Linked DNA regions of Homo sapiens. The protein of the gene in region 1 purifies or fractionates together with the protein of each later gene. This does not show direct contact. Each region holds a gene or a part of one and is shown in the gene's direction. Other genes may lie near its edges. The genes, in order: PKIG and TYMS.

Region 1 (15,755 bases):
CAGCTAATTTTTTTATTTTTAGTAGAGACAGGGTTTCACCATATTAGGCTGGTCTCGAACTCCTGACCTCAGGTGATCTACCTGCCTTGGCCTCCCAAAGTGTTGAGATTACAGGCGTGAGCTACCGTGCCCAGCCTAGCATGTACTTTTAAGAGAATAAGGACTCCTTTTAAAAATATAACCACACTATCACACATAAAATAATTAATAATCCTTTATTATTAGCAGTGGTCTCCATTTAACTCATAAGTTATTTTTTTAGTTCTAGTCAGATCCAAACAAGGACCTCACATTACCATACTGCTTTTTCTTGACTCATCAGTTTTTTGTTTGTTTTTGAGACAGTCTCGCTCTATTGCCCAGGCTGGAGTGCAGTGGCACCATCTCAGCTCACTGCAACCTCCACCTCCCAAGGTTCAAGTAGTTCTCCTGCCTCAGCCTCCCAAGTAGCTGGGATTACAGGCATGCGCCACCATGCCTGGCTAATTTTTGTATTTTTATTTTTGAGACGGAGGCTGGCCGTCACCCACGCTGGAGTGCAATGGCATGATCTCGGCTCACTGCAACTTCTGCATCCTGGGTTCAAACGATGCTCCTGCCTCTGCCTCCGGAGTAGCTGAGATTACAGGCACCTGCCACCACGCCCAGCCAATTTTTGTATTTTTAGTAGAGATGGGGTTTTGCCATGTTGGCCAGGCTGGTCTCAAACTCCTGTCATGCAGCTGGTTTTGATCAGACATCCTGTCATGCTTTATTTGGCCATTCACAATCAATAATAAAAGACTTCTTTAAGGGGATAGGTCTCAGTTCATCTGTTTGTCCCATAGGCCTCTGCCCTGCCTGGGAAGCTGCTGGGTACTGGAAGGGTACTAAGGTACTAAGTGGAAGATGCTTTAGGGCACATGAGCAGGAGCAGCAGTTAGACTGAGGGCCCTTCACGTGTTAGCATAAGGAGGCCAGTCTCTTACTAGAAGCCCTCGATCAATCCTAGGCAGTTCATTCAATTTATTTAAAGAGGCCTCCTGTCTTTGGCTGTGGTTCTGCAGAGCTTTTGGGCCCTCTGTGTGCTGCAGGTATGGGATAGAGGAGCTGGCTGGCACAGGACCTTCAGTGGATCCCTTAATTTTTTGGCCCTTCTGAATCTTCTCGACGCCTGCTGTCTTCAGGTTCAGAGCCTCCCTGGGGTCCCACACCATTCCTTGTCTCTCATTTCCAATGGTGCTTTCTTGTCCTTGTGCTCCAAACTTCAGCTTCTGTTGTCATACCTCTCTGAACTTTTTCTATCTTCCGGAAATTATTTGAAATGAAATCCCTTGTTCTCTAATGATCCTTCCTTCAGCAAAAAGGCCCAATTTGTAGTTCAGAAGACGTGGTGCTTTTTACAAAAAGTATGTTAATGTTTTACCATAGACTGGACTAAGTAGAGTGTGTGTGTGTGTGTGTGTGTGTGTGTGTGTGTGTGTGTGTTTAGAAAATATTTATTGAGTTTCCTATTTTATGCCAGGCACTCTTCTAGGCACTTGGGATAGATGTATTCAGTGAACCAAGGAGACATACTGTTGACTTTGTGGAGCTTACAGTCTGGTGGGGAAACACATGGAACGTGTACTTATAAATATGTTAAGGGTTATAAGAAGAGACATAGGAGTACCATGAGACCAGTACAGCAGGGGGAGCTAACGTGGCTCAGAGAAAAGGGCGCCCTAGGGAAGTGATATTTAATCTGAAATCTGATGGCTGAGTAGGAGTTAACCAAAATAAGAGGGAAGAGCCCTTCAAATTTGTATGTCAAAGTGCAGTAGCAAGTGAGAGTCTGAGACCAATAGAGAGTAGCAAGTGAGAGCCTCAAACCTTCTCCTGTTGGAGCACCAGGCTGTACTACCTCAGGATAGTCCCTTGCCTTCTCTGGATCTGGCATTCCTCACCCCTAAAATGAGGAGACCACATGCTCCTTTCAGCTGCAAAAATCAATGAGTCCAAGACTGTTTAAAGTTAAGGTCACTGTTTAAGTGAAGGTCCATCTCTCCCAAAACAGCTGTAGTTGGAAACTTATCTCAAGCTGGTGGGAAGTGGTTTGAAAAAAGGCAGGGAGGGGACAGTGTGATATCCTGCGAACCTATCCAGTTTCTAGCCACATAATCACTGGGGTCAGGCTTCTCTTCTCCTTCTGGCTCTCCTTCAGACACACCAAATCAGCAGTCCAAAGGGGACCACAAAGTGGATCCTCAGGACATCGAACCCTGAAGAAAAAGCAGCCACGTGTACTCCAAAACCAAAAAAATACGTTGAGCAATGTCTTAGTCATCTTTTGTGGGTTTGATTCCCCATCCCCCAAAAATGACTTAAGTTTCTGATTTCAAAACATTGTGTGTATGTGTGTGTGGTTTTTTTTTTGAGACAGATTATCATTCTGTCACCCAGGCTGGAATGCTGTGGCATGATCTCATCTCACTGCAACCTCTGCCTCCCAGGTTCAAGCAATTCTCCTGCCTCAGCCTCCCGAGTAGCTGGGAGCCTCCTGAGTAGCTGGGACTACAGGTGTGCACCACCACGCCCAGCTAATTTTTTTGTGTTTTTTTTAGTAGAGACAGGGTTTCACCATGTTGGCCAGGCTGGTCTCGAACTCCTGACCTCAAGTGACCTGCTCGCCTCAGCCTCCCAAAGTGCTGGGATTACAAGCGTCAGCCACCGTGCTTGACCAAGAACATTGTTTTAAGTGTAAGTGTGGTTCCTTCTCTGGGGCCTTACACCAGGATTGTGGTGAGACGATGTATTGTTCTCCTTTCTTTTTTCCTGTTCTTCTGTATTTTCTTATCTTTTTACAATAAGCAATTATGATTATAATTGGAAGAAAACAAAATCTACTTTTATTCGTAAATCTCAATCAATATACTTCTCAATTAATTGTCTAGAAAAAGCATGGACCTTCTAACTGCATGGCACAGTGAATAAGTGAGTTGGAAATGGTATGACAGCTGAAACCTGCCTTTGATGGGTGATGAGCGATTGCACTGTACAGCAGCTGTGTGGACTAGAAAGTGGGTAGTGGTGGCCAGAATTTCTTTATTCATATACTCCTTCAACAGATATCCGTCAGTTGCTAGCTGATATAGTTTGGATGTCTAACTATATTGGTGGATAGCTGTTGGATGTCATGTTGAAATGTGAACCCCAGTGTTGGAAGTGGGCCCTGGTGGGAGGTGTGTGGGTTATGCGTACAGATCTCTCATGAATGGCGTGATCCCCTCCCTGCTGTAATGAGTGAGTTCTTGTTCGGTTAGTTCAAGTGAGAACTGGTTATTTTTTAATTAAAAAAAATTATTTTGGCCGGGCATGGTGGCTCATGCCTGTAATCCCAGCACTTTGGGAGGCCAAGGTGGGCGGATCACGAGGTCGGGAGATCGAGACCATCCTGGTTAACACGGTGAAACCCCATCTCTACTAAGCATACAAAAAAATTAGCCGGGCATGGTGGTGGGCGCCTGTAGTCCCAGTTACTCGGGAGGCTGAGGCAGGAGAATGGCGTGAACCTGGGAGGCGGAGCTTGCAGTGAGCCGAGATTGCACCACTGTACTCCAGCCTGAGACTCCATCTCAAAAAAAAAAAAAAAAAAAATGCAAGGGACTACATGTGTGCACCACCATGCCCAGCTAATTTTTGTATTTTTAGTAGAGACGGTGTTTCACCATGTTGGCCAGGCTGTCTTGAACTCCTGACCTCAGGTGATCTGCCTGCCTTGGCCTCCCAAAGTGCTGGGATTACAGGCGTCAGCCACTGTGCCTGGCCCTGGTTGTTTAAAAAGAACCTGGCACTTCTCCCTCTCACACTTGCTCTCCATCTTGCCATGCAACATTCCGGCTCTCCTTTCCCTCTACCATGTCTAAAAGCTTCCTAAGGCCTCACCAGAAGCAGATGCTAGTGCCATGCTTCTTATACAGTCTGCAGAACTGTGAGCCAAATAAACCTCTTTTCATCATAAATTATTCAGCCTCAGGTATTCCTTTATAGCAGTGCAAACGGACTAACACTGCGTAACAAATTAATCAATCTGTGCCTGTGATTTTCTCATGTGTCAAGCAGGGATAATAATTATACCTACCTCATAGAGATCCTTATGGGGTTAAATGAGGTAATTTATATAAAGCAGTTAGAATACAACCAGGCACGGTGGCTCACACCTGTAATCCCAACACTTTGGGAGGCCAAGGCAGGCAGATCACTTGAGCTCAGGAGTTCAAAACCAGCCTGGGCGTATGGTGAGACCCCCGTCTCTACAACATAAATAAATAAAATAAACAGAATATTACCTGGCATATGGTAAATATACAATAATAGTTTTGGGGTTTGTTTATGGATTTCCTTATTTTAATAAGTATCTCATAATATGTACAAAATGCTGCTATATTAGACACAGATCTTTTCCTTAAAAAGTTAGGATTCTGGCAGAGAAAAAAGACCTGCCCCCAACTAAATATGTGTCATCAGAGAAAAGGGTATGTTTCTTAAGAGAGAAACAGAGCATACTAAGGAAATTCAGAGGAAGGAGAGACCCCTTCTAAACTGGGGGTAAAAGGTGGAATTAAACAGCCAAAGTTTCCTTCATCCTCAAATGGAGCTGATGCTGCTGTCTGTGAAAAACAGCCAAGTTTCCTGAAGGGAAGCCCTTTAAGAGGTGGTAGTGCAAGGGGGTTGTGGATTCAGGACTGGCACCACATGGTCCCTAGTTAGAGTGCAGGCTCTGCCCCTTGCTCCCGTGAGCCTTTGAGCAGGTTGGTCGGCTCACCATGCATCTGTTGCTACAGCTGTAAGATGTGAATATTAATAATGTCTCCTGCACCCGATTATTGTGAGGATGACATGAAGTGGTGTTCATAGAGTGCTCAGTGCACAGCTTGGCCCCAGCCCACATAAGTGTGTCCAGTATTGTCAGTTATAAGAAGAAATGAATGTGCCAGTGTTGCTATGGTTCTGTCTTCCGGGATTCTGTCACAGACGTAGAATTATTCCGTTCACAAGGGAAGTGATACAGAGTACATGTTGTTGAAGAAAATGATGTTGTTTTTATGAATGGGCTCCTTACTATTATTTTTGTTCAAGTAACAAAACATGATTCAAAGCACCCATCTTCAAGAGCCCAGCCTCATTTCCTGACACCTACTCAGTCTTCTGGAATAAAGGCTCAGCCAAACAATAGCCCTGACCTCCAGTCCCTCCAAACTGAGTGTTGCTGCTGAGAACAGGCCTTACAGCTCTGGGTGGGCTTTTGTTCATTACTCATCGTGACATTCTGGAGAAATACAGGACCCTTTTGACTTCCCGACCAATCTCTGACTTTCTTTCATTGTCACATCACCATTAGGGCAAAGGATGATGAAATGGTCAGAATTAGACAAGAAGTATTCAAATATTTTTCAATGTATAGTATGTGCCAGGCACATAACCCACACAAGAACCTTGGAGAGTAAGGCTGTTATTCTTCTCATTTTACACTGGGAAACCAAAGCACAGCAAGAAGGTCTAGGGACCAGAAGGAAGCCCACATCTCTCTGAGCTGTGAACGGCTGCTCTCTGTGGGTTACCAGGCTGGTGTTTTTTTGTTTTGTTTTGTTTTTTGTTTTTTGTTTTTTTTTTAAAGACAGAGTCTCACTGTCGCCCAAGCTGGAGTGCAGTGGTGCAATCTCGGCTCACTGCAACCTCCATCTCCTGGGTTCAAGCAATTCTTCTGTCTCAGCCTCCCAAGTAGCTGGGACTACAGGAACACGCCACCACGCCTGACTAATTTTTTTTGTATTTTAGTAGAGATGGAGTTTCACCGTGTTGCCCAAGCTGGTCTCAAACTCCTGAGCTCAGGCAATCCACCCACCTCGGCCTCCCAAAGTGCTAGGATTACAGGTGTGAGCCACCGCGCCCGGCCAGGCTGGTGTGGTTTTTATTCCACAGCAGTCCTACGTCACATTGTCACATTGTTGAAAAGCCTTCAGATTGACAAACTCCCTCCTAATATAGCCTGTTTTCTTGGATGTTTTCTGATAAGCATCTGTGTTTTCTGAGAACTAATAAAAATTCTTGTTAAACCACAAATTACCACAGCCTCTTCCTTACCTATAGAGAGCCGCTTTCCCAGTAAAGCTCCGGTCCTACCTTCCCATCACCATCAAAGTGGCATTGAAACAGATCAGATCTGCTCCTTTTGAGGGAGTTAGTTGAAGCCCAGTCTTGCTTCAGGCCACACAGGATTTGGGTAGCAAAGCAAGGAAAGCAGCCTCTCTGACCTAGTGGCCTGAGTGTTTCCTTTCCCAGGCTGGCTGCGGCAACCACTTTGAGAAATGGCATTGGCATTGGCATGTGTGTGGCATGTGTGCTGACCTAGTTAGGAGTTGAGGCTTCATTTCTAATTCTGTCCCTTTCGTTTTGAGCTGTGTGACCTTGGGCATGTCACCTAACTTCTCTGTATATGTCTTCTTATCCAGGAAGGAGAGATTAATAATGTAGCCTCATAGCACTTATCTGATTCTCCTAAGGATGTTATGAGAATCAAATGAGATTATGTACAACGAGAGCAAACATTTATTCAATACTTAGTATGTACCAAATACTTTCAGTTTCCTTACATGTGTTTTTTAATTCTCACAATCCTAAAACAGAGGCACTAGTATCCCACTTGACAGTTAAAAAAACTGAAGTTCAGAGAAATTAAGTCAGACAGGACTCAGATCCACATCTGTGGCTCCCAAATGATGTTCCTAACCACTATGCATGTCACTCGCTCCCCATTGTACACGAAAGTAGAGAGATGTTCTTTGTCTTTACCATCAAGCACTCTCCAAATGCAAGAAATGATCTCTCGTAACCACTGCTGTTCCATGTTGGTCCCTAAGGACACTTATAGCCTGTTACTTGTTTGTCTTATCTTGTAGTTTATGCTGCTGCTTTTCATGTCCCTAAGGACTTGTTCAGTGAATTCTTTTGGTTTTACTCCCAGAGAATCTGTTCATCTCCTTCATAAAGGGGGTTAAAGGTGCCCAGCTGAGCCTGGCATCTTGGGCAGTGGCCTCTGACTTCTCCAGGGTTCTTCCTTCCCTCAAGCATGTAGTTGGGTAGCTTGTAGTAAAATGCTCTATAATGCATTTGTTTATAAGTTCCCCAGTCACTGATTTTTACTCATTGAATCTCAGAAGTGGAAAGCACCAAAGCCAGCATTTTGTTGATAGGGAAACTGAGGTCCAGAGAGGGATGTGACTTGCTTGAGGTCATTCATTCAGTTGAAGGCCTGACCAAGACTGGAACCCAGTTTCCCAGGGGACACACCAGTGCTGTTTCCAAGCCTTCCCCGGGGGCACACATCACCTCCCCTACATGAAGGACAAACTCATGTACTGTGCCCAGCATGTACCTAGGAGACCTGGGAGAAATGAAACAACTTGGAAAATTGGGCAGGAAGAAAGAGATGGGTGTGGGGTGGGGTGAAGATCTCCACCCTAACTAGTATATTATATACCAAAGAAAGGAATTAAACACACAGGAAAGCAGACAACCCACTAAGAAGCAAAGGAATTTACCCAGGAACCCTGGCTCAGTGAGTGGATAGGAAGCCTTTTGTCACTAAAGCTGCAGGGTTGAAAATTGAAGGAAGGATATTAGGCAAGCGTGGTGGCCTGGGATGCAGTTACAGCCCCCTGGCTCATTGTCCAAAGGAAATGGATCTCTCCTGTGGACAGAGAGGTGGAAACTGAGTGAGTGAGTTGTGTGGTTGACATCATCAGGCTGAGCATTGGATTACAACAAATGGGGACTTACTTGGCCCGAGACATGGGAAACACCCACTAAAACCTCAAAGTGCTTTTCATTTAGGAGACACGGGGAAGAGACAGAGAGGAGGGTAAAGTGAGAATCCTGCCCGCACCACAGGTCTGGACTGCTAACCTTGAATCCTGGTTTCTTAAATTCTGCCTCCGCTTCTGACTGAGGACCACTGGATTTTGAGGAAACTTTGGTCTTGTAAGTAGAACTTTACTCTCCTCCCCTGCCCAACACCCCCAGGGAGAAGCAGAGCTTGGAGGCAGAGCTCTCTGGAGAGCTTGCTTTCCAGCCTGTTGGCCACAAAATGTCTATTTTTATATAATGATATATGTGAGCTTGCTCTGAAAATTATGGCCTTGTCTGAAACTGCCTAAGGCTAGTCGGAGCCTCCAGTCTCACAAATGGGCTCCATTCAGATGCTGTTTCATTTTTACTCAAAGAACTTTGACAGAGTATTCAGAGCTTTAAAAGCAGCTCCTTGCTCCAAATATAGGTGAAGAAATAAATCTTCCCTAAGAAATTCGTGTTTGTAAAACCCTTTCTTTTTTTCTGATTACAAAGGTGGTATAATAATTTTTAAACATTCTAGAAAGAAAAGTCTCCGAAAGTAGTGAAAATTCCCTATTATCTTCCCCCTCAGGAACATGGTTGTTGTGTTAAATTTCAGTTACAGATATGGTCAGACTCCATGAATTTACCACATATAAACCCAGTGCTGCAGCAGCTGTGTGGAAAACTCCAAGATGGAAAGGGGTTGGAAATCTTTAACCTTGGGTTTGCGATCTTTTTATTGCTTCCTTTTAAAAATTTGCTGTTTATGCCTGGAATATAAACAGGACATGTAAGCCTTTAGGCATTTTATTTGTTGGTATCTGTTTTCAGGGTTTGAAACTAAGCAAGCTACTCTGTAGAGAGGGAAAGAGGGGGCCCTTGCTGTACCCAGGTCCCTTACTTGGTGGGTCCCTGAACTGAGGAGGATTCCTAGGTGGCTTGAGATGGCTTGCAGTGTGCTAACAGGGGAGGTGTCCCCTCTTAGCAGGTTAAGTATATTTGAAAAGTTACAGCTAACGGGAAGATTTCAGCTTCAACAAAAAGCTACCATATATTAGAAGGGTCACCCAAGGAAACTGTCACCTTGGGCAAGTGTTTCACACTCTCTGGGTCTTGTTTCTTTATTTGTACCTAATGAGGGGACAAAACTAGATGATCTCTGTATTTCCAAATTCAGTATGAAATGAACTGTCCATATTTCTTTTCCCTTTGTATTGGGCCCTTATGGCTTTAGGAGCAAAGGACCCTAGGTTTTCAGTTTCCCAGAGTAGCTAAAAACGGGTGCCTGTAGGACAGTTAAAAGAAGACATAAAACAGGCAACATTAAGTTACTTCTGAGTTTTTATGGGTCTTTTTCAGATTAGGTGTTCTTGAAGAAAGAGAAAGAAAAAGTCTCAGTGGTAACTGTATGTGCACACGCATACACTAGCACATACACTTGGGGAGAGAGGAAAGAAGGAATTGGCATTATTGAGTATCTCTTAAGCACTAGGCCCTATGTTATGCTCAACCCTTTACAGAGCACTAGATGGTCAGTATTATTCCCTAACCCCATTGACTGAGGACAACCATCTACTTATATGTTTTCATATTATCCTGAACTAAACTGTATTTACATAATTACTGGCATAACTTCAATTCCCCATGTCTCCACTAGACCATCTGCACCTTCTCTGCGTGTCTGTCTAGCCCATCACTATGCCCCACTGCCTAGTAGAAAGCCTGGCACATAGGTACAAAGGAGACACAACTTAATTTAAACTTAAAGCCCGCCATCCTAGTTCCTCATTTGGCAAGAAAGAGGGAGAAGAAGGGGGAAAATCCCTCTATTTGCCCCTCTTTCATCATTTAACATAGAGCCACCCTCTCCTGCCACAAGGGAAGGATAGCCACAGCCAGAGTGCAAAAAAAAAAAAAAAAAAGCAAAAGACGTCAGATCTTGAATTTTGAGTTTCCAAGGTGCCGGGTCTTGACAAATTAAGGTTTTTGCTTTGTTTTGTTTTGTTTTTGTTTGTTTGTTTTGTTTTCTTTAAGGGCATCAGAGACCCTAATCCTCAGGAAGTTGTGGTATTTAGAAACTATTTGTTTGAATTAAGGTCCTAGTTAATAAGAGGGTTCTCAAAGGCCCTTGGCACTTCTTTTTTTTTTTTTTTGAGACGGAGTCTCACTCTGTCTCCCAGGCTGGAGTGCAATGGTGCAGTCTTGGCTCACTGCAGCTTCCACCTCCCGTTTTTGTTCAAGGGATTCTCCTGCCTCAGCCCCTCGAATAGCTGGGATTACAGGCGCCTGCCACCACGCCCAGCTAATTTTTGTATTTTTAGTAGAGATGGGGTCTCTTGGCACTTCTAAAGCTGCAGTCTTCCCCAGCATTTCATCCCATGAAGGTGGACTGTTGCTGCCATGGACCCACCCATGGGCATGGGCAGTGGGAAGGCCAGGGCATCCTCTGCTTCATCCCAGCCCCGCTGGGATCTTGAGATTTGGGGTAATCAAAAAAGGCATCCTTTTTCCTAAGGTGGTGGTGAGGAGGTGATGTTCTGGAAGGAAGGTACCTAGACTTTGTGGTCCCTGCCAGGAAGTGGAGAGTGGAAATGTGGAATGCCTCACACTCCTCAACTAGGTAGGCCTTCATGTACCAGATGAGGGTGGCTTTCAGTTCTTGTTTTGTGTGTCAAAGTTGCTCCTGTTATCAGTGTGTGTTTGCTGATCTCTCCCACCTCAGTCACTCCCGGCAGTGAGTTTAGGGCATCTTGGGAGTGGAGGTAGGTTGTGGAAAAGATGTGTCCAGAGATCTCATTTGGCTTTGGTATCTTCCTGAAATAAATGTCACACACAGGGCTGGGCATCTTGCATATGCTGACTTCTCTTAATCTTCACAGCAATGATGTGAGGCAGAGATCATCTCCATTTTACACCTAAGAAAGGCACAGAGAGGTGCAGTGGATTGCCCAGAGTCTCACAGCTGGCAGGGGCTAGAGCTTGAGTTCCCAATGAGAACTGGTTGTCCCCGAAGCCCTTGAATATTTCACCATACTGCAGTGCCTTTTTCATATCACCTCCCTGGATCTCAGTTGCTCCATCTGTTAAATGATGACAAGTGAACTCTAGTCAGAAGTCAGAGTGGTGTTTTGTTTTTAATTTGAATGCCTTTAGGCAGGTGTGTTCTCCAGTTCATTACCATTTGCGCATTCCCCTGTGCCCTCTAGTCTCCTGCCTGGCCCCTGGCCCCTGTGGGAATTTGCAGCCCTGCATCTGGTTGGTGTCTACCGTTTCTTTCGATTTAGACAATCTAGAGGGCAGTGAGAAATTGGAAAGGGGTAGCAGGTAAGAGCTCTCGAGTTCAGTGAGAAATTGGAAAGGAATAGCAGGTAAGAGCTCTAGAGTTCAGTGACAAATTGGAAAGAGATAGCAGGTGAGAGCTCTTGAGTTCAGTGAGAAATTGGAAAGGGACAGCAGGTGAGAGCTCTCGAGTTCAGTGAGAAATTGGAAGGGGATAGCAGGTAAGAGCTCTGCTTTCACCGCCTCCTAGCTGGGAGATCCTGGACTGATCACCTCACTTTATAGAACCTACTTCTCTTTCTGTCAAGTGGGGGGTCACAGTCATACTGACCTCAAAGGGGTGCCATGCGGATGAAATGAGATAGGGCTCATAAAGCACTTAGTTAGTACAAAAATACATGCTTAGGATTAGCTGCTCTCAATTTCCAGAAAGAGAATGTCAGCCAATGTACACAGGCATCTGCCCCCTCAGACATAGGATGGCATTTGCATGAGGAACCAGAAGTTATCTTTGAACTCATCATTTTGAAACCCCTGTGATGAACCCTGGAGCTGCCATGTTGGCTCTTCAAACCAAGCCTCAGCATTATTTCCTGTCACCCAGTCAAGTGATGCTGAACCTCAAATCAGCCAGCCAGTGCTGAGGCCAAAAGCAGAAGTGGGTGCTATTCTCTTGGGACCAGAGGACCCTAGCCCAGCCACTTAAGGAAGAAGCTGGTAACAGGTGCTGGCTGTGACAGACAAGAAGCTGAACTGGCCCAATTAACTCTGCCAAATGCTTTCACGAGGGGCCAGAAGCAATTCCTAAGTGGAGACTGAGGTGGAAAATCTAAAGTTCTGGGAAACAGGTTATTAATCATGACCCTAGGCTGAGCTCACTACCTCCTGGAAATCCTTCAGAAATGTCTTAGGAAAACTTGGAGTACTGCTCCTTCAAAGAGTGGTTTCTTTGGAAGTTGCCGTGGGCTCCTATGCTGACTGATTATGAATTGCAGATTAGAACACATAATGTATCCGCTCTTACTGGAGGAAGCTGCATTTCCAAAAAGAAGTCTCTTTAATGTTTCAAGAAATTACAGGCTTTAGCTTGACTCTTCAGAACTGAATAATGGCCCTTCATGGCACCGAAGAAAGTATTTGGTGTATTCTTACTATGTCCCAGGAACCTAGGTCAGTTACTGTTTTAGTACTTTATCAGTGTAGTCTTTAACATTCCATAAATGTACATTGAGGACCTGTTAGTACTAAGCACTGAACTAGAGGACCAGGGTAAAGACACTGCCTCTGGTCTTGTGGAATTCTCTGTGCAACAAGGGAAGATAGACAGAGGAGTGAATAATTTTAATGGCACGTGAAAAGTACTGCAAAAGAAATATGCACAAGTGCTACAAAACACCAGACACTGGATCAGCATATTGTGGAGGTCCTGATCTTGCGCTGGGTTGATTCCTTCTGCTCTCTCCCTACAATTCCTGGCTCTGGGAGCTTTGCCAGCATTTGCATTAGGGAGCAACTGAGAGCTGCCCCTGCTGAAGCACTCATTTCTGGCACCTTCCTATCCCCCGTGGCTTCAGAGGGGTGGAAAGAACACTTCCTTACAAAATGTATGGGCCCCACCTGAGAGGGCCCTGAATCTGAAGTCCAAAGTTGTAGTAAGGAAACAGAGGGACGGGTGACTTTTGTAGTCTAAAATCACCACTGATTTTCCGTTGGTTTGTTTTTATAACATTTATTGTGGATTTTTTTTTTCTGATTGCAAAATTAGAATATGTTCAAGGGAAGAAAAGCTAGATAGTACAGAAAAACACACTTAAAATAAATCATCACTCAGTGATTTCACTTCTCTGTTTTTGAATAAGGGCCTGTCTCCCAATCCCCCCACCCACATACCGCTGTATTTCAAGTTTAGCTCTAATTTTAATTTCTCCCTGGGCAAAGTCTCATGTTTGTTTGCATATCTCAAAGGTGCTTGTGTTGTGGGCTCCAATCACTACTATCTGCAATTGGTTAGAGCCTGCGGCCATCATTTATACTTTCCTGGACGTGTGTGTAGATTCATCTACTGCTAAGAACCCTTTATGTGTTAGGCATTATGCAAGGTGCGGTGGGGAATGTCGAGGTAAATAAGACTTTGAGGTTGCTCATGGCCGGATAGGAAAAAAAGACTCAGATAACATGAACACATTGTGAAAATGTGCCCCAAGATGGGGACAGAGTCCTGTAGAAAGCCTAAGAGATTGGAGGAGCAGTAGCATTTGAGCTGAGCCTTCAATAAATTTTTCATGTATTTAGCCAATATTTGTTGAGAACCTAATATCCGCCAGGCACTGGGCAAGGTGATAGGTGGATGATGTTAAATATAACAGGCATGGCCTTTACCTGCATGAAGTTTACAAGCACAAATGGTGGCGTTAAGAAGTCAATAAGCAGGGGGAGTGAAAGAGGAGAGTGTGGCTGGGGTCTTCCTTGAAAAGGTGGTATTCAAACTGAGAAGAGGGCTGGGCGCGGTGGCTCATGCCTGTAATCCCAACACTTTGGGAGGCCAAGGCGAGTGGATCACCTGAGGTCAGTATTTCAAGATCAGCCTGGCCAACATGGTGAAACCCCGTCTGTACTAAAAAAATACAAAAATTAGCCGGGCGCGGTGGCACGCACCTGCAGTCCCAGCTACTTGGGAGGCTGAGGCGGAAGAATTGCTTAAACTTGGGAGGCAGAGGTTGCAGTGAGCTGAGATTGTGCCATTGCACTCCAGCCTGGGTGACAGAGTGAGACTTTCAAAAAAAAAAAAAGAAATGGAGTCACTTATACCAAGAGTAAAGGAGGGAGAGGGAGTAAAGAAGGGTGCTGGATTATTCCTTCCTTTGCTCATTATTGATTCTAAAAATCTCACTTATTTTCTGTATTCAGTTTCCTTTCTATTGGAGAATATTCTTGGGGTCTGTGAATGGTAAACTTGCCCAGTCTTTGTTTGAAAATATCTTTTGCCCTCACACTTGATATGTTAGCTAGATATAGAATTTTTTGCATAGCATGTGTAATGAATGTGAAAGTTATACATGCCTCTTTAAAAGTTTTCAATCAAAACAGAAATAGATAATGTACAAAGTGAAAGTCTTTCATTTCTTTTCTCACAATTTCTCAAAAGAGAATAATTTTTTTCAAAAGAGAGAAGTTTCCCAGGGGGAACCATTGGTTACAGTTTGCCCTTTTCTATATATACTGAAAATTGTTTAAAGTGTAAAGTATGTATACTTTTTAAAAATGTGCACGTACACAAATGCTGTACTTTTTTTTTTTCTAAACATAAATAATCATGTTCACATTTGAGCAGGACACAGTAGTTCACACCTGTAATCTCAACTAGTCAGGTGGCTGAGAGTGGATGATTGCTTGAGGCCAGGAGTTTGAGGCTACATTGAGCTATGATTGCACCAGTACACTCCAGCCTGGGGACAGAGTGAGACCTGGTCTCTTAAAATTAAAAAGAAAATGTAAAGTTCTTTTTTTAATTAAAAAATGATAATATATGCAATTTTACAATATGCTTTTTAACAATCAAGCATGTACTTTTTTCCACATCAGTACAATGAAATCTCCTTCATTCTTTGAAGTTGCTGTATAGTTTCTCATGATATTGATACACCATAATTTAACTATTTTTCTATTAATAGACATTTAAGTTGTTTTCGCCCCTTGGTTTTGCTACTATACAGTATTTCACTGAGTATCTTTTTACTTAGGTAAATATATCTGTAGTATAAATTCCTGGACATTTCAGGAATGTGACGTGTCTAGGAATTTGACCCCAAAGGATATGTATGCACATTTAACAAGTTAATAGATATTGTCAACTTGTCTTCCCAAAAGATTGTTTCAATTTATAATCCCAGAGTATGTCTGGCTCTAATTTTTGTTTTTCTTCTGGTTCCTTAGAATTCCCGTACTGATTAGTCAACAGTGGAAAATCTGAAGAGATGCAAGCAGGAAAAAGAAATTAAACCAGGTAGGTAGTGGCACTGTTCATACTCTACTGCCAGAGCAGCACACGTTTTTGCCTGAATATCTTTATTTCTGGTTGAAGGAAGAAAATACGTAAGTTCCAAACTAAATTAGTGGGAGATTTTGACCTTATGAAGAAAAGGCAGGATGGCTCTTTTCAGAAGTTATATACATAACAGCATGCTACAATTTCACAGTCAAGATTCTGTTTTCAGGCGTTTTTTTTTTAATAGCATCAGAAAGAAAATTTACCTTTGGTGGCTTAAGAGGGGATGGGTTTCCCGGCCATGTACTTAAGCTTAAGCAGGTGGAATCATACACAGGAGTTATTAGCAACATTGGGCCTGGTGCCAGCTTTCCTCTCCACCAAGTGTTTGCTGTAAAGCTGTTTTCACAAAGACCAGGGCACATTATGGGAATTTTCATTTTAATGCTGTAATAGAGGAGCAAAAGCCAGCAAAACCCAACCCAAAGAAATGGGTTCGGCCCAGTAGTCTGGTGAGAAGGGATGAAGATGCAGTCCCTCCAGCTGAGAACAAATTGCCATTCAAAGAGCACAAGTGGCCCACCTGGCAGTATGGCCACCTTGGGTCCAGTGTCCATAGTTTATGATATCTAAATGTTTC
Region 2 (15,757 bases), on another chromosome or scaffold:
TTCCCATCCCCAAGTTTCATAGCTGCCGGCCCTGGGATCTACAGTCACAGGCTGTAACACAATATCTTGCACATCCTGAGTCTTTAATAAGCTTTTGTAGATGGGCTCTTACCATCATCATCATCGTGAAAGGCAAATATACAAAATTTGTTGACTAATGTAATGAGTCATGAGTAACAGAAGTTTACTGACCAAACACTACGTGCATGTAGAGTTCAGAATAAACACTTTATTATCACATCAGAGGAAAAGACCATCTTAGAGGCTCAACAACCCAGGAAAGCTGTGACGATTTCTTCAAATTGTTAAGAATATCCATGCATATGGGTTTCACATTATTTTGCTACATACAGTACCAATTTTTCCAAAAGCCAACAGCAGGTATTCTATTACCCATCCTGGACTTTTACTCCAAGAAAAAATACACTGAGTCTGTGAGTAATTTATTAGTATTTTGATCATTGCTGCCTTTTTTTTTTTTTTTAAGGTAAGAAGATCTAATGCATCCTATATCCAGTAAGTAGAATTATCTCTTCATCTGGGACCTGGAAATCCTGAAATAAAAAAGGATAATGCAATAAACACAGTTGCAGGAAAGTATGTTAGCTATATACTATGAAGTACTCTTAGTTTACTTATGTTGAATGGCTTAGCTATTAATACTCAAATTGAGTTAAAATGAAAATTCCTCCTTAAAAAATCAAACGTAATATGTATTACATTTCATGGTACATTAGTAGTTCTTTGTATATTGAATAAATACTAAATCACCTAGGTGTCTATGTTCTATCACATCTACAAACATGTCACTTCCTAATTAACAAAATGTTCTTCCTTTAGTTTGCTTTTGCACTTAAAATATATATAATTGACTTTTTTGGAAAAAAATCTAAGATTCATTGCTTTGTTTTGTAAAGACCAATAGGTTCTGTATAGTCTTTTTTTAAATTGTGGTAAAATACACATGGCATTAATTTACCATTTTAACCATTTTAAAGTGCACAATTTGTGGCATTAAGTACACTCACGTTGCTGTGCAACCATCACCACCGTCCATCTTCAGAACCTTTTTATCTTCCTAAACTGAAACTCTGTACTCGTTAAGCACTCACTTCCCTTTTCCCCATCCCCCAGCCCGTAGCAACCACGACTGTACTTTCTATGAATTTGACTACTCTAGGTACTGCATGTAGGTGGAATCATACAGTATTTGTCTTTTGCTTTGTTTTGTTTTGTTTTTTGTTTTCTAAGACAGGGTCTCACTCTGTCGCCCAGGCTGGAGTGCAGTGGTGCAATCACAGTGTCCTTTTGTGACTGGTTTATTTCACTTAGTGCCATGTTTTCAAGGTTCATCCATGTTGTTGCATGTCTCAGAACTTCCTTTTTTAGGCTAATATTCTTGCATGTATTTACCTAGTTTTGCTTATCCATTCAGCCATTGATGGACACTTGGGTTGCTTCCATCTTTTGGCTATTGTGAATAATGCTGTTTTGAACGTGGGTGTGCTACATAGTTACTTTTTAAAATTGGCACAACAGCGCTGTCTTTTGACATACGTATTTTATGGAAAACACAAGATTTTCCTGGCTGACGCTCAACCTCATAATTTGGACCTTGGTGCAACACAATAATAGGAGAGCTATGTGTCAGTATATATCACTAAGGATTACAATGAGAGTATATACAGTCAGTATTACAAATTATAAAAAGAAATGTAGGCCAGGCACGGTGCCTCACACCTGTAATCCCAGCACTTTGGGAGGCCAAGGTGGGTGGATTACCTGAGGACAGGAGTTCGAAACCAGCCTGGCCAACATGGTGAAAACCTGTATCTACTAAAAATACAAAAATTGGCCAGGTGTGGTGGCGCATGCCTGTAATCCCAGCTACTCAGGAGGCTGAGATGGGAGAATTGCTTGAACCTGGGAGGCAGAGGTTGCACTGAGCCAAGATTGTGCCACTGTACTCCAGCCTGGGCAACAGAGCGAGACTCTTTTTTAATAAATAAATAAATAAATAAATATATAAAAGAAACGTAATGAAAGAGAGAGAACTCTGAACTTTTAAAGAACTTTTCACCCAGTCTTGATCTATCTGACAGAAAGGCTTGTCAGAGAAAGTTAGAGTTCAGAGGCAGCCAATTGAATATAATTAACTCCAAATGAAGATAAACCTTTTCTAAATCATAACTGAAGGCTATAAAAAATGAGAATTATGTTATTTTTTTTTTGAGACAGGGTCTTACTCTATTGCCCAGGCTGGAGTGCAGTGGCATGATCTGGGCTCACTGAAGCCTGACCTCCTTGGCTCAGGTGATCCTCCCACCTCAGCCTCCTGAGTAGCTGGGACTACAGGTACTACCATGCCCGTCTATTTTTGTATTTTTTTAGTAGAGATGGGGTTTCTCCATGTTGTCCAGGCTGGTCTCAAACTCCCAGGCTCAAGCAATCTGCCCGCCTCAGCCTCCAAAAGTGCTGTAATTACAGGCATGAGCCACTGCTCCTGGCAGGGAACTAATAGAATCCTGGGTTCTTCGGTGTGCAATAAATCTCAAATACAGTCTATTCAACCATAGATTTTAAATATTTGTTAGTGAAGGTGACAAAAAAATAAGTGATTAAGAGAACCTATTTTCTATCCAATGAGCTATCAAAAGCTTATAGAGTGGAAAGAGAGTGGGGGAAGTGAGGCTCAAAACAGCTAAATGGAAAGAAGATTTTGCATGCAGGCTGAACTGGATTTTCATCCTGGCTACTATATTCTCCAGATGTGTCACTTTGGCCAAGATCCTTAATCTCAGTGTCATCTATAAGGTAATTAAAGTACACTAGTGCCCCACTAATCTGTGGTTTTGCTTTCCAAGCTTTCAGTTACCCGAGATCAACTGCGGTTTTAAAATATTATGTGGAAAATTCCAGAAATACATAGTAAGTTTTCAATTGCATGCCATTAAATCTCATGCTGTCCCTGACCCCTTCCTCTCCGGAGGTGAATGCTCCCTTTGTCCAGTGGCTCCACGATGACTACATTCCCCAAATTGTTCTCTTAGGAACCCTTTCTGTGTTCAAGGAACCCTTACTTTACTTAATTATGGCCCCAAAGCACAAGATAGGGATGCCGGCATACTGTTATAATTGTTCTATTTTATTATTAGTTATTGTTGTTCATCTCTACCTGTGACTAATTTATGAATTCAACTTTATCATAGGTATGTAGGTATAGGAAAAAAACATGGTATGTATAAGGTTCAGTACTATCTGCAGTTTCAGACATCCCCTGGGGGTCTTGGAACATATCCCCCGTGGATAAGGGGAAACTACTGTAAAAGTTTGTGTTTTATAGAGTAGTTGTGAGAACTACATTAATCCATAATGTGTGGCTCATGATACTCATTGATAGATGGTAGTAGCAACAATAAAAAATAATATTATCAAGTAACTGATTCATAATTGACTCTCAAAAACGTTAATTTTCTGCTTTCCTTTACCTAAGTTTACCTACATGTTTGAATTTGTAAAGGGAAGGTTTTTCTAGACCAATAATTTTCAAATATTTTTGCTCTCATACTTCCTCAAAGGAAACTGAAAAAGTTGCAACATACTTGCATGTCATTTTTCTATATAAGTTGAAAGAATAGCAAATTGTTATTTTCCCACGCATCGTAAAGATTAGCAGGTCATCCCTCTTTAAAATGTACCAAATGGAATCTAAATATCATCGCAATTTGACCCAGCATCATCCATTTAAACAAATATACAAGTTTTTCTTTAACAATGAGAAATTTTATCTCATTACATTTTCTCCCTAAACTCTTATTTCAATCTACATTCCTAAGAATTTTATCCTAATGTAGTATATTTTTATGCTTAAATATCTTTTGTTGATCAACACAATTTTGATCATTTTTAAATTTTAAAAATTAAGAACATCCTGTGACATCAAATTCTAGGTATGAAATATTTATTCTAGATTGGGTGATCATTATAATTATTTTTTGTACATAATTGATCAAAATAACATAAATATACTACAAATTTCTATGACTACTAAACATATAAAAGTAAAATTTTAAACAAATATATCTCTTAATGAGAAGGAAGAGCTTTTTATACTCCAATAAGTTAACGTATCCACTAATAATTATTATTTCTTCCTAGAACAAGACAGGATTAAGCATCATGACCGTCCCTATTGGGGGATGTTTTTATAGATGCAAGCACTGTGGCACCTACTGGTATAAATGCACCTGCTGATTGGAATGTTCTTTCCCCAGATCTTCCCCTGCTGGTTTCTTCCCAGTATTCAGGTCTCAGCTCAAATGTGACTTCCTCAATGAGGCCTCCTGGTGATCAGATCTAAAGCACCCTCTACACAATCACTGTTTAGTGCTATACCCATTAATTTACTATCATCACACTTGTCACTATCTGCAGATGTCTTGTTTGGTTACTTTTGTAGTGTTTGTCACTGCCAGAATATCAGTTCTATGAAGAAAAGGGCCTTGTCTGTCTTGCTGTTTGTAGACATGAGGAAGGCACCATGATATAAATGTGTGTTAATGAATGAATGAATGAAATTTGTCTGAGAGAACCATTCATTCTAACCAACATTTATGGAGTAACTACTTTGAAAAGAACCATTCTGTCTTTACTATCAAGCCAAGATACTCAAGGAAGGCAGCAGAAGTGGAAGCTCCATGTGGGCAGAGGAGCCTAGTCTTGAGATGTGATTTAGCTGGTATTTGGGTGAAACAAATAAACCAGCCTCAAAATAACACAAGGGGCCGGGTGCAGTGGCTCACGCCTGTATCCCAGCACTTTGGGAGGCTCGAGGCAGGCAGATTACTTCAGGTGAGGAGTTCGAGACCAGCCTGGCTAACATGGTGAACCTCCATCTCTACTAAAAATACAAAAACTAGCTGGGCATGGTGATGGGTGCCTGTAATCCCAGTTACTCGGGAGGCTGAGGCAGGAGAATTGCTTGAGCCTGGGAGGCAGAGGTTGCAGTGAGCTGAGATTCTGCCACTGCACTCCAGCCTGGGTGACAGAGCGAGACTCCGTCGAAAAGAAAAAAAGAAAGAAAGAAAAAAAACACACAAGGATGTGCAACTGATGCAGGGCAGGTGAGCCCAGAATTGGGCTTAGCTCAGGAGGGTTCTTGGTTTTGCTCAGGAAAGAATTTAAGAGCTACCTGGTAGAAGAAAAGCTCTACTGATATGGCAACAGCTCCCTGAGTGCCCCTGTAGAGCAGAGCTACCCTATAGGCAGTGTGCTGACAGCAGTAGCTTAAAGGCAGGTCTGCAGTGATATTTATAACCTACTTTCAATTACATGCAAATTAAGGGGCAGATTATGCAGAAATGTCTAGAAAAAGGGTGGTAACTTCCGGTTGTCGGCTCACTGCCATGGAAAGGGGCAGTAAGCTCTGGATGTTGCCATGACAATCGTAAACTGACATGGCACACTGGTGGGCACGTCTTATGGAAAACTACTTCTGCCCCATCCTTGTTTTGACTACTCCTCAATTTGGTCCCATGTCAGAGCCCTGCCTCCAGAGTCAAGCCCTGTCTACCTCACAATTATTATGTATCAGGTTTTTAAAAAATAACACAAGTAAGGCTGGGCATGGTGGCTCACGCCTTTAATCCCAGCACTTTGGGAGGCCGAGGTGGGCAGATCACTTCAGATCAGAAGTCTGAGACAAGCCTGACCAACATGGTGAAACCCTGTCTCTCCTAAAAATGCAAAAAAAAAAAAAAAGAAAAAAAAATTAGCTGGGCATGGTGGCAGGCGCCTATAGTTCCAGCTACTTGGGAGGCTGAGGCAGAATTGCTTGAACCCATGCAGCGGAGTTTGCAGTGAGCTGAGCACCACTGCACTGCAGCCTGAGGGACAGAGCAAGATTCCACCTCAAAAAAAAAAAAAAAAAAAAAAAAGGAAAAAGAATAACACAAGGAAATTAAACACAGATAACGTGCATCTGGATAATCTGGAATATTTTCAGCCTGGGATCTTCCTCGTGCTCGGAAACGTGTAGGGAAACGTGTAGGGACAGTTTTCAGCTGGTGTGGGGTGGGGGAATGCCAACATATGGTTGGCTTTCCACAGTCCTGCTAAAGCCCTGCAATGTGCAGAACAAACCGGTCCAGCTAAGAAAAGTCCCACCCAAAATGCTGAGAGCACCTCTGTACTCAATCAACCGTTGAGGTAAAAGGATGCTTGCAAGTACAACACATGTATCAGTGCATTTTAAACTCATTATAAAATCGTTCTGTAAACCAAAAATAAAATTCTACGCCCAGAACCATCTGAAAAGACCACTCCTCTGGGTCAAAGGCATTCCAAATTTAACCACAAAAACTAGTTCAGGCCATGATGGGAAGGGGAGCCAGACATGCCTCATTATTCCCTCCTCCGTTTGGAATTTAGGCACAGCTGACCAGCATTGACATCAACACAGGCCTCAAGACAGGTAGAACACACTCTTTAAGTCTGACAAGAAACATTTACAATCTATCTCTCTAAAGCCTGCTACCTGGAGGTTTAATCTGCATGATGAATCCATGGTCTCCACAACCCCTTATCTTAACCCAGATATTCCTTTCTATTCATTCAAATCTTTTTTTTTTTTTTCCCCATACGGCTCTGTCACCCAGACTGGAGTGCAGTGGCGCTTTCTCAGCTACTGCAAGCAACCTCCGCCTCCTGGGTTCAAGCGATTCTCCTACCTCAGCCTCCTGAGTACCTGGGGTTACAGGCGTGTGCCACCTCGCCCCACTAATTTTTGTATTTTCAGTAGAGAGGGTTTCACTATGTTGGCCAGGATGGTCTCAATCTCCTGACCTCGTGATCTGCCCGCCTCGACCTCCCAAGTGCTGGGATTACAGGCGTGAGCCACCGCGCCCAGCCCTCTATTGATTCCAGATCTTTAGATAACAATTCTTTCAACCAAATGTATAAAAAATCAAGTTGTAGCCCAACCACCTTGGGGACATGTTCTCAGGATCTGCTGAGGGCTCTATCACCGGCCATTGGTCACTCATATTTGGCTCAGAATAAATTTCTTCAGATATTTTACAGAGTTTAACTCTTTTCATCAACAGTTCCCACTCCCCAGTGTTAATGTTATAAACAATTCAGTAAAACTGGGAAATGTGGTCTATTAAAAACTTGGGGCCGAGTGCGGTGGCTCACGCCTGTAATCCCAGCACTTTGGGAGGCCAATGTGGGTGGATCACCTGAGGTCAGGAGTTTGAGACCAGCCTGGCTAACATGGCGAAACCCCGTCTCTACTAAACATGAAAAAAAAAAATTAGCCGGGCGTGGTGGCGGCGCCTGTAGTCCCAGCTACGCGAGAGGCTGAGGCAGCAGAATTGCTTGAACCCAGGAGGCGGAGGTTGCAGTGAGCCGAGATCGCACCATTGCACTCCAGCCTGGGTGAGAGAGCGAGACTCTGTCTCAAAAAAAAAAAAAAAAGACCGCCAGGGCTCAAACAAAAAACCTCGGAAAAGCCCTGGCGGTCTTTTTTTTTTTTTTTTTTTTTTTTTTGGGACAGTCTTGCTCTGTCGCCCAGGCTGGAGTACAATGGTCGGATCTTGGCTCACTGCAACCTCTGCCTCCCAGGTTCAAGCAATTCTTCTGCCTCAGCCTCCCAAGTAGCCACCACGCCCAGCTAATTTTTGTACTTTTAGTAGAGACGGGGGTTTCACCATGTTGTCCAGGCTGGTCTTGAACTCCTGACCTCAGGTGATCCACCCGCCTCGGCCCCCCAAAGTACTAGGATTACAGGCGTGAGCCACCGCGTCCAGCGCCCTGGCGGTTTTTAATCAAGTAGAAAAGCTGCATTATACCACTTGCTTCGGTTGCTTCAGTGAGAACGAAGAAATGGAAATGCAAATCCCTTATTAGTTGTAGGAAACAGATCTCAAACAGCAGTTTTGTTGACAAGACCGCAGGAAAACGTGGGAACTGTGCTGCTGGCTTAGAGAAGGCGCGGTCGACCAGACGGTTCCCAAAGGGCGCAGTCCTTCCCAGCCACCGCACCTGCATCCAGGTTCCCGGGTTTCCTAAGACTCTCAGCTGTGGCCCTGGGCTCCGTTCTGTGCCACACCCGTGGCTCCTGCGTTTCCCCCTGGCGCACGCTCTCTAGAGCGGGGGCCGCCGCGACCCCGCCGAGCAGGAAGAGGCGGAGCGCGGGACGGCCGCGGGAAAAGGCGCGCGGAAGGGGTCCTGCCACCGCGCCACTTGGCCTGCCTCCGTCCCGCCGCGCCACTTGGCCTGCCTCCGTCCCGCCGCGCCACTTCGCCTGCCTCCGTCCCCCGCCCGCCGCGCCATGCCTGTGGCCGGCTCGGAGCTGCCGCGCCGGCCCTTGCCCCCCGCCGCACAGGAGCGGGACGCCGAGCCGCGTCCGCCGCACGGGGAGCTGCAGTACCTGGGGCAGATCCAACACATCCTCCGCTGCGGCGTCAGGAAGGACGACCGCACGGGCACCGGCACCCTGTCGGTATTCGGCATGCAGGCGCGCTACAGCCTGAGAGGTGACGCCGCGGGCCCCTGCGGGACGGGTGGCGGGAAGGAGGGAGGCGCGGCTGGGGAGAGCGCTCGGGAGCTGCCGGGCGCTGCGGACCCCGTTTAGTCCTAACCTCAATCCTGCGAGGGAGGGGACGCATCGTCCTCCTCGCCTTACAGACGCCGAAACGGAGGGTCCCATTAGGGACGTGACTGGCGCGGGCAACACACACAGCAGCGACAGCCGGGAGGTAAGCCGCGTCCCAGCGGCTCCGCGGCCGGGCTCGCAGTCGCCCCAGTGATGCCGTGGCCCCCGAGGCGGGCGTCATCGGGCAGCGTTTGCCCAGTGCTGGAGGGTTAGGGAGAGCTGCCTGGGCTTGACCGCGCGCCGGTCTCAAAGTCCTGGCTTTGGCCCCTCCTCCGTTTTCCCCTGTGGACCATTCCGCTTCGCAGCGTTTTCAAAAACTGGAGCGAAAGTGATGTGGGCGGGGCAAAGGCGGCGGGAAGAGGAGAGCACTGAAGCTGGCGCGGGAACTTGGTTTCCTGGTGGCCTCCCATCCAATCCCCACGAACCAGCTTTCCTCTTAAACCTTGAAAAGAGAAATTCGGGAGTTCGAGTATAAGTTCTTAGTCGTCCTTTCCTCTTTCCTTTCCGACAGGAGCACCCCAGGCAAAAAATGTCTCGCGGGTCATTGGCGCCAGGCTTTCAGGGGACAGTGGGGCGGGGCGGGGTGGGCACAGGACGTTAGGCAGCCGTTGGCCCTCCCTAAGGCCACACCGTCCTGCCGTCCTGGATCCTGCGCCAGCTGCGCGGGGGAGGGGACTCGAAGGTGTGTGAGCCAGGGGCTGACCTTGACCGCTCAGATAAATGGAGCGCAGCCTTGACACAGGGGTGGAGGTGGTTTTGAATGGGGAAACCCATTCGTGGTGAAGCAGATTCACTGTAGCTAGCGGAAAAGCCCTCCGGCCCACGGACCCATCTAGAGACGAATACATAGCAGCTGCTGTGGCTGATTGGCGTGGGACAGCGTGGGGAGTTTTGTCTGAGGAGAGGGATCCACTTTTCTGCAGCTCCAAGCCCAGGGGCCTTTGATGAGCCATAGACCTCATTTTTAACCCACCTTTCTGCTTAGACATTGAGCAAGTTACTTCTCATATAGCTTCCCTATATGTTAAAAATGGAGAAAATAATGCTTAGTAGGCAATTCTGATAAAAGCAGGTGCTTGCAAAAATCTCTCTGTTGTCTGAATATAAACTGTACCACAAGCGAGTGCGGATGAACGAGGACTGCATTTAAAGATAAGTTTTTACACTTTCATTTCTCTGTGGCTCGACACTTCTGATGCCTCCCTTTTTGTTCCTGGGACACATGCTTGGTGTTGTCTTCACACCTTTGTGACAGGATTAGCACTAGTGGGCAGTGGATGATAGCTCCTCCCTTTTGCCACATGTTCATCCCTGCCCTCGCCACCATCTCACTGTGTGGAATTCCTGTGTCCACTGGTCACCGGGGCACAGAAGTGCTGTCTCAGCCTGAATCGGGCCACTGATGGGACTTGCAGCCTGGGAGCTCCACCGTGATCTCTGGCCCACTTTGCGGGAGTCTAGGCTTTCTGGATGCTCCAGGGCCTCACGTCCCAGGGCAGTTTTCTTCCCTGAAGAAAGTTGGATGGCATGATCTGTCTTCCCATCTTGAAACCGTATGGCAAATTGTTTTTCAGATGAATTCCCTCTGCTGACAACCAAACGTGTGTTCTGGAAGGGTGTTTTGGAGGAGTTGCTGTGGTTTATCAAGGTAAAGAAGTCGCTGCTATTAGAAGTCAGTAGTCTGTTCTCAACACAGCAGCCAGTGAGATCCTTTCAAAACTCAAAGCAGCCAGGTGTGGTGGCTCACGCCTGTAATCCCACCACTTTGGGAGGCTGAGTCAGATCACCTGAGGTTAGGAATTTGAGACCAGCCTGGCCAACATGGCGACACCCCAGTCTCTACTAATAACACAAAAAATTAGCCAGGTGTGCTGGTGCATGTCTGTAATCCTAGCTACTCAGGAGGCTGAGGCATGAGAATTGCTCACGAGGCGGAGGTTGTAGTGAGCTGAGATCGTGGCACTGTACTCCAGCCTGGGCGACAGAGGGAGAACCCATGTCAAAAACAAAAAAAGACACCACCAAAGGTCAAAGCATATCATTCCTCACCCTCAAGCCCTTAGTGGCTCCATTTCACTCAGTAAGAGCCACGGTCCTTATGGTGTCCGTTTTTCAGCTCTGACCTTAGCTGCTGCTCTCTGCACCAGCCCTGCTGTTCTTGTGAGTTTTTGAGCACACCGGGACATCCCCACTCCCTGGAACCTTCTTCCCCCACACTTGGCTTCTTCCTTTGAGTCTCTACTCCACTCGGGCAAGCCTTCCTAGACCTCCTGATTTAAAACTGTGACTCTCCCCCAACCTCCTTGGTGTTTCTCCATAGACGAACATCACCATCTGATGTATGTCAGCCTTTCCCTTCCCCTGTTAGAAGGGGGACAGCAGGTAGTAAAAGTGAAATGTGCTGTAAGCTTTATGAGGGCAGAGGATTTGTTTCTCGTGTTCACTGTTGTATCGCCAGGGCCTCAAACACAGCCTGCCACATAGTAGGAGTCAACATATATTGATCACTAAATGTAGATACCACCTGTGTTCCCATGTTCATATAAATTCTAGAAGAGTCTCTTCAGTAACAAGGTGAACCCCTTCCAGAGGGCTGAGTAGGTACCTCAGGCCGGGGCCAGAGTGCTGTGAAGACAGGCAGCAGCCCAGACCAAGCTTCTCTGTGTTCCGTGTCCTGGTCTAGAACCAGCGATGTTCTTTCTGACCAGTGCTTTTTGGAAGGTGGCTGAGGTCTGGGCTCAGGTCTGGGCCATACTAGAAGCTGGGATCCCTTCTATAGAGCACTTGGTATGGCTTGTATGGTCTTGGGGCAAGCCAGACCCAAGCCCTCTTATCCCATTTTAGAAAGGGCTTCAATTTGGATCCAGCCCCAGGTCTGCCTTAGCTCTGTATTCTTGGGGTATTTTGTTCTGTATTGGCCTATCTTGACTAACAATGAACCTTGGATTTGAAACATATCATCAGAAACCTCAGAAGACAACATTCTTAAACTGGCTAGAGCCTGGTCTGAATGGATGAAAAGGAGAGACTTTTGAAGCAATATGTAAAAGATTGAGAAATGATTTGTTGGAAATTTCTCAATTGGAGAAATTTCTTTGATTTGTTGGAAATTTCTTTGATTCTTTCTCAATCAAAGAAAATCGGGACAAACTCAACAATAGAAAGGGAGGAAGCAAGATACTCAGAAATAAAATGCATTCCCCTGTTTCAACTTAATGCTTCAATTCAGGATTCTAAGGAATCCTTGCCAGGAATGTCAGACTCACCTTGATAGTTGGAGTTACTCCATTGGTGACTCGATCAAATACAGGAGTTGAGGCACCTGCACTGTAAAATACTGATTAGTCTGATCATTAGGAATATCCTGTATGCCAGGTAGAAGATACATTGAACAGATTGCATGTAGGCATTAAATTCATTTTGGGGTATTACATATAGACAACACATTTCATTAAGAAACATAAAACTGTCAGATCGGTGGAATACTTAAAAGCACTTGGAGGTGTTTAGCCTAAAAAGCTTAGTTGAGGGGAATGGAAGAAAAGATCTGGGAGGGTGGTTCCAAAGAAGGGATCAGACTGTCCTAAAGCCCTCAGGAATCTGGGCTGGGACCAGCCTACTTAAAGATAGGATGGGCAGCTGGGTGTGGTGGCTCACGCCTGTAATCCCAGCACTTCGGGAGGCCGAAGTGGGCGGATCACCTGAGGTCAGGAGTTCGAGGCCAGCCTGACCAACATGGAGAAACACTGTCTCTACTAAAAATACAAAATTAGCTGGGTGTAGTGGCGCATGCCTGTAATCCCAGCTACTCGGGAGGCTGAGGCAGGGGAATCGCTTGAACCTGGGAGGTGGAGGGTGCCGTGAGCCACGATCGCGCCATTGCACTCCAGCCTGGGCAACAAGAGCGAAACTCTCAAAAAACAAAAAAAAGGATGGGTTCCATATGGGTGGTGTCAAGTGCCCACCTCCTAGCAAGTCAGCAGGGGCCAGAGGCCCTTGTAAGTGGTGTCTCGGGGGGATCAACTGAGATGGCTTAGGATTTACCTGGATGCCTGCTCTGCTCTCCCCATCTCTTCCAGGGATCCACAAATGCTAAAGAGCTGTCTTCCAAGGGAGTGAAAATCTGGGATGCCAATGGATCCCGAGACTTTTTGGACAGCCTGGGATTCTCCACCAGAGAAGAAGGGGACTTGGGCCCAGTTTATGGCTTCCAGTGGAGGCATTTTGGGGCAGAATACAGAGATATGGAATCAGGTGAGGAGATAGAACAATGCCTTCCATTTCCCGGGTGCCCTTCCTAGCATGTGTTTGCTCCGTTGTTTTAGATAAGGTCTGGGGGATGAGTCAATGTCACAGGAGCTGATGTATAGCTTTGACCTTGTGAGGGGTGGTGCCAGGTTAAGCCACAATTAAGCCTCATGAAGGCCGTTTCACACTCTTTTTTTTTTTTTTTTTTAATTATTATACTTTAAGTTTTAGGGTACATGTGCACAATGTGCAGGTTAGTTACATATGTATACATGTGCCATGCTGGTGCGCTGCACCCACTAACTCATGATCTAGCATCAGGTATATCTCCCAATGCTATCCCTCCCCCCTCCTCCCACCCCACAACAGTCCCCAGAGTGTGATGTTCCCCTTCCTGTGTCCATATGTTCTCGTTGTTCAATTCCCACCTATGAGTGAGAATATGCAGTGTTTGGTTTTTTGTTCTTGCGATAGTTTACTGAGAATGATGATTTCCAATTTCATCCACGTCCCTACAAAGGACATGAACTCATCATTTTTTATGGCTGCATAGTATTCCATGGTGTATATGTGCCACATTTTCTTAATCCAGTCTATCATTGTTGGACATTTGGGTTGGTTCCAAGTCTTTGCTATTGTGAATAGTGCCACAATAAACATACGTGTGCATGTGTCTTTATAGCAGCATGATTTAATAGTCCTTTGGGTATATACCCAGTAATGGGAGGGCTGGGTCAAATGGTATTTCTAGTTCTAGATCCCTGAGGAATCGCCACACTGACTTCCACAATGGTTGAACTAGTTTACAGTCCCACCAACAGTATAAAAGTGTTCCTATTTCTCCACATCCTCTCCAGCACCTGTTGTTTCCTGACTTTTTAATGATTGCCATTCTAACTGGTGTGAGATGGTGTCTCATTGTGGTTTTGATTTGCATTTCTCTGATGGCCAGTGATGGTGAGCATTTTTTCATGTGTTTTTTGGCTGCATAAATGTCTTCTTTTGAGAAGTGTCTGTTCATGTCCTTCGCCCACTTTTTGATGGGGTTGTTTGTTTTTTTCTTATAAATTTGTTTGAGTTCATTGTAGATTCTGGATATTAGCTCTTTGTCAGATGAGTAGGTTGCAAAAATTTTCTCCCATTTTGTGGGTTGCCTGTTCACTCTGATGGTAGTTTCTTTTGCTGTGCAGAAGCTCTTTAGTTTAATTAGATCCCATTTGTCAATTTTGTCTTTTGTTGCCATTGCTTTTGGTGTTTTAGACATGAAGTCCTTGCCCATGCCTATGTCCTGAATGGTAATGCCTAGGTTTTCTTCTAGGGTTTTTATGGTTTTAGGTCTAACGTTTAAGTCTTTAATCCATCTTGAATTGATTTTTGTATAAGGTGTAAGGAAGGGATCCAGTTTCAGCTTTTTACATATGGCTAGCCAGTTTTCCCAGCACCATTTATTAAATAGGGAATCCTTTCCCCATTGCTTGTTTTTCTCAGGTTTGTCAAAGATCAGATAGTTGTAGATATGCGGTGTTATTTCTGAGGGCTCTGTTCTGTTCCATTGATCTATATGTCTGTTTTGGTACCAGTACCATACTGTTTTGGTTACTGTAGCCTTGTAGTATAGTTTGAAGTCAGGTAGTGTGATGTCTCCAGCTTTGTTCTTTTGGCTTAGGATTGACTTGGCGATGTGGGCTCTTTTTTGGTTCCATATGAACTTTAAAGTAGTTTTTTCCAATTCTGTGAAGAAAGTCATTGGTAGCTTGATGGGGATGGCATTGAATCTATAAATTACCTTGGGCAGTATGGCCATTTTCACGATATTGATTCTTCCTACCCATGAGCATGGAATGGTCTTCCATTTCTTTGTATCCTCTTTTATTTCATTGAGCAGTGGTTTGTAGTTCTCCTTGAAGAGGTCCTTCACATCCCTTTTAAGGTGGATTCCTAGGTATTTTATTCTCTTTGAAGCAATTGTGAGTGGAAGTTCACTCATGATTTGGCTCTCTGTTTGTCTGTTATTGGTGTATAAGAATGCTTGTGATTTTTGCAGATTGATTTTATATCCTGAGACTTTGCTGAAGTTGCTTATCAGCTTAAGGAGATTTTGGGCTGAGACAATGGGGTTTTCTAGATATACAATCATGTCGTCTGCAAACAGGGACAATTTGACTTCCTCTTTTCCTAATTGAATACCCTTTATTTCCTTCTCCTGCCTAATTGCCCTGGCCAGAACTTCCAACACTATGTTGAATAGGAGTGGTGAGAGAGGGCATCCCTGTCTTGTGCCAGTTTTCAAAGGGAATGCTTCCAGTTTTTGCCCATTCAGTATGATATTGGCTGTGGGTTTGTCATAGATAGCTCTTATTATTTTGAAATATGTCCCATCAATACCTAATTTATTGAGAGTTTTTAGCATGATGTGTTGTTGAATTTTGTCAAAGGCCTTTTCTGCATCTATTGAGATAATCATGTGGTTTTTGTCTTTGGATCTGTTTATATGCTGGATTACATTTATTGATTTGTGTATATTGAACCAGCCTTGCATCCCAGGGATGAAGCCCACATGATCATGGTGGATAAGCTTTTTGATGTGCTGCTGGATTCGGTTTGCCAGTATTTTATTGAGGAATTTTGCATCAATGTTCATCAAGGATATTGGTCTAAAATTCTCTTTTTTGGTTGTGTCTCTGCCCAGCTTTGGTATCAGGATGATGCTGGCTTCATAAAATGAGTTAGGGAGGATTCCCTCTTTTTCTATTGATTGGAATAGTTTCAGAAGGAATGGTACCAGTTCCTCTTTGTACCTCTGGTAGAATTCGGCTGTGAATCCATCTGGTCCTGGACTCTTTTTGGTTGGTA

Evidence for each region.
Region 2: the proteins of PKIG (region 1) and TYMS purify together in Homo sapiens (affinity purification with mass spectrometry; 2 studies listed by BioGRID and IntAct, with this or other methods). This does not show direct contact.

The regions. Positions count from the first base shown.
Region 1 is NC_000020.11:44,574,734-44,590,488, forward strand, and holds the start of PKIG (cAMP-dependent protein kinase inhibitor gamma), read left to right. Parts: upstream 1-7,845; 5' UTR 7,846-7,998; intron 7,999-10,366; exon of another isoform or gene 10,367-10,471; intron 10,472-15,063; 5' UTR 15,064-15,133; intron 15,134-15,755. UniProt on the Homo sapiens protein: Extremely potent competitive inhibitor of cAMP-dependent protein kinase activity, this protein interacts with the catalytic subunit of the enzyme after the cAMP-induced dissociation of its regulatory chains.
Region 2 is NC_000018.10:649,411-665,167, forward strand, and holds the start of TYMS (thymidylate synthase), read left to right. Parts: upstream 1-8,242; 5' UTR 8,243-8,332; coding exon 8,333-8,537; exon of another isoform or gene 8,538-8,881; intron 8,882-10,230; coding exon 10,231-10,304; intron 10,305-12,735; coding exon 12,736-12,910; intron 12,911-13,575; exon of another isoform or gene 13,576-13,595; coding exon of another isoform or gene 13,596-15,757. Other genes in the region: CLUL1 (clusterin-like protein 1), read left to right, coding at 488-491; ENOSF1 (mitochondrial enolase superfamily member 1), read right to left, coding at 13,596-15,757. UniProt on the Homo sapiens protein: Catalyzes the reductive methylation of 2'-deoxyuridine 5'-monophosphate (dUMP) to thymidine 5'-monophosphate (dTMP), using the cosubstrate, 5,10- methylenetetrahydrofolate (CH2H4folate) as a 1-carbon donor and reductant and contributes to the de novo mitochondrial thymidylate biosynthesis pathway.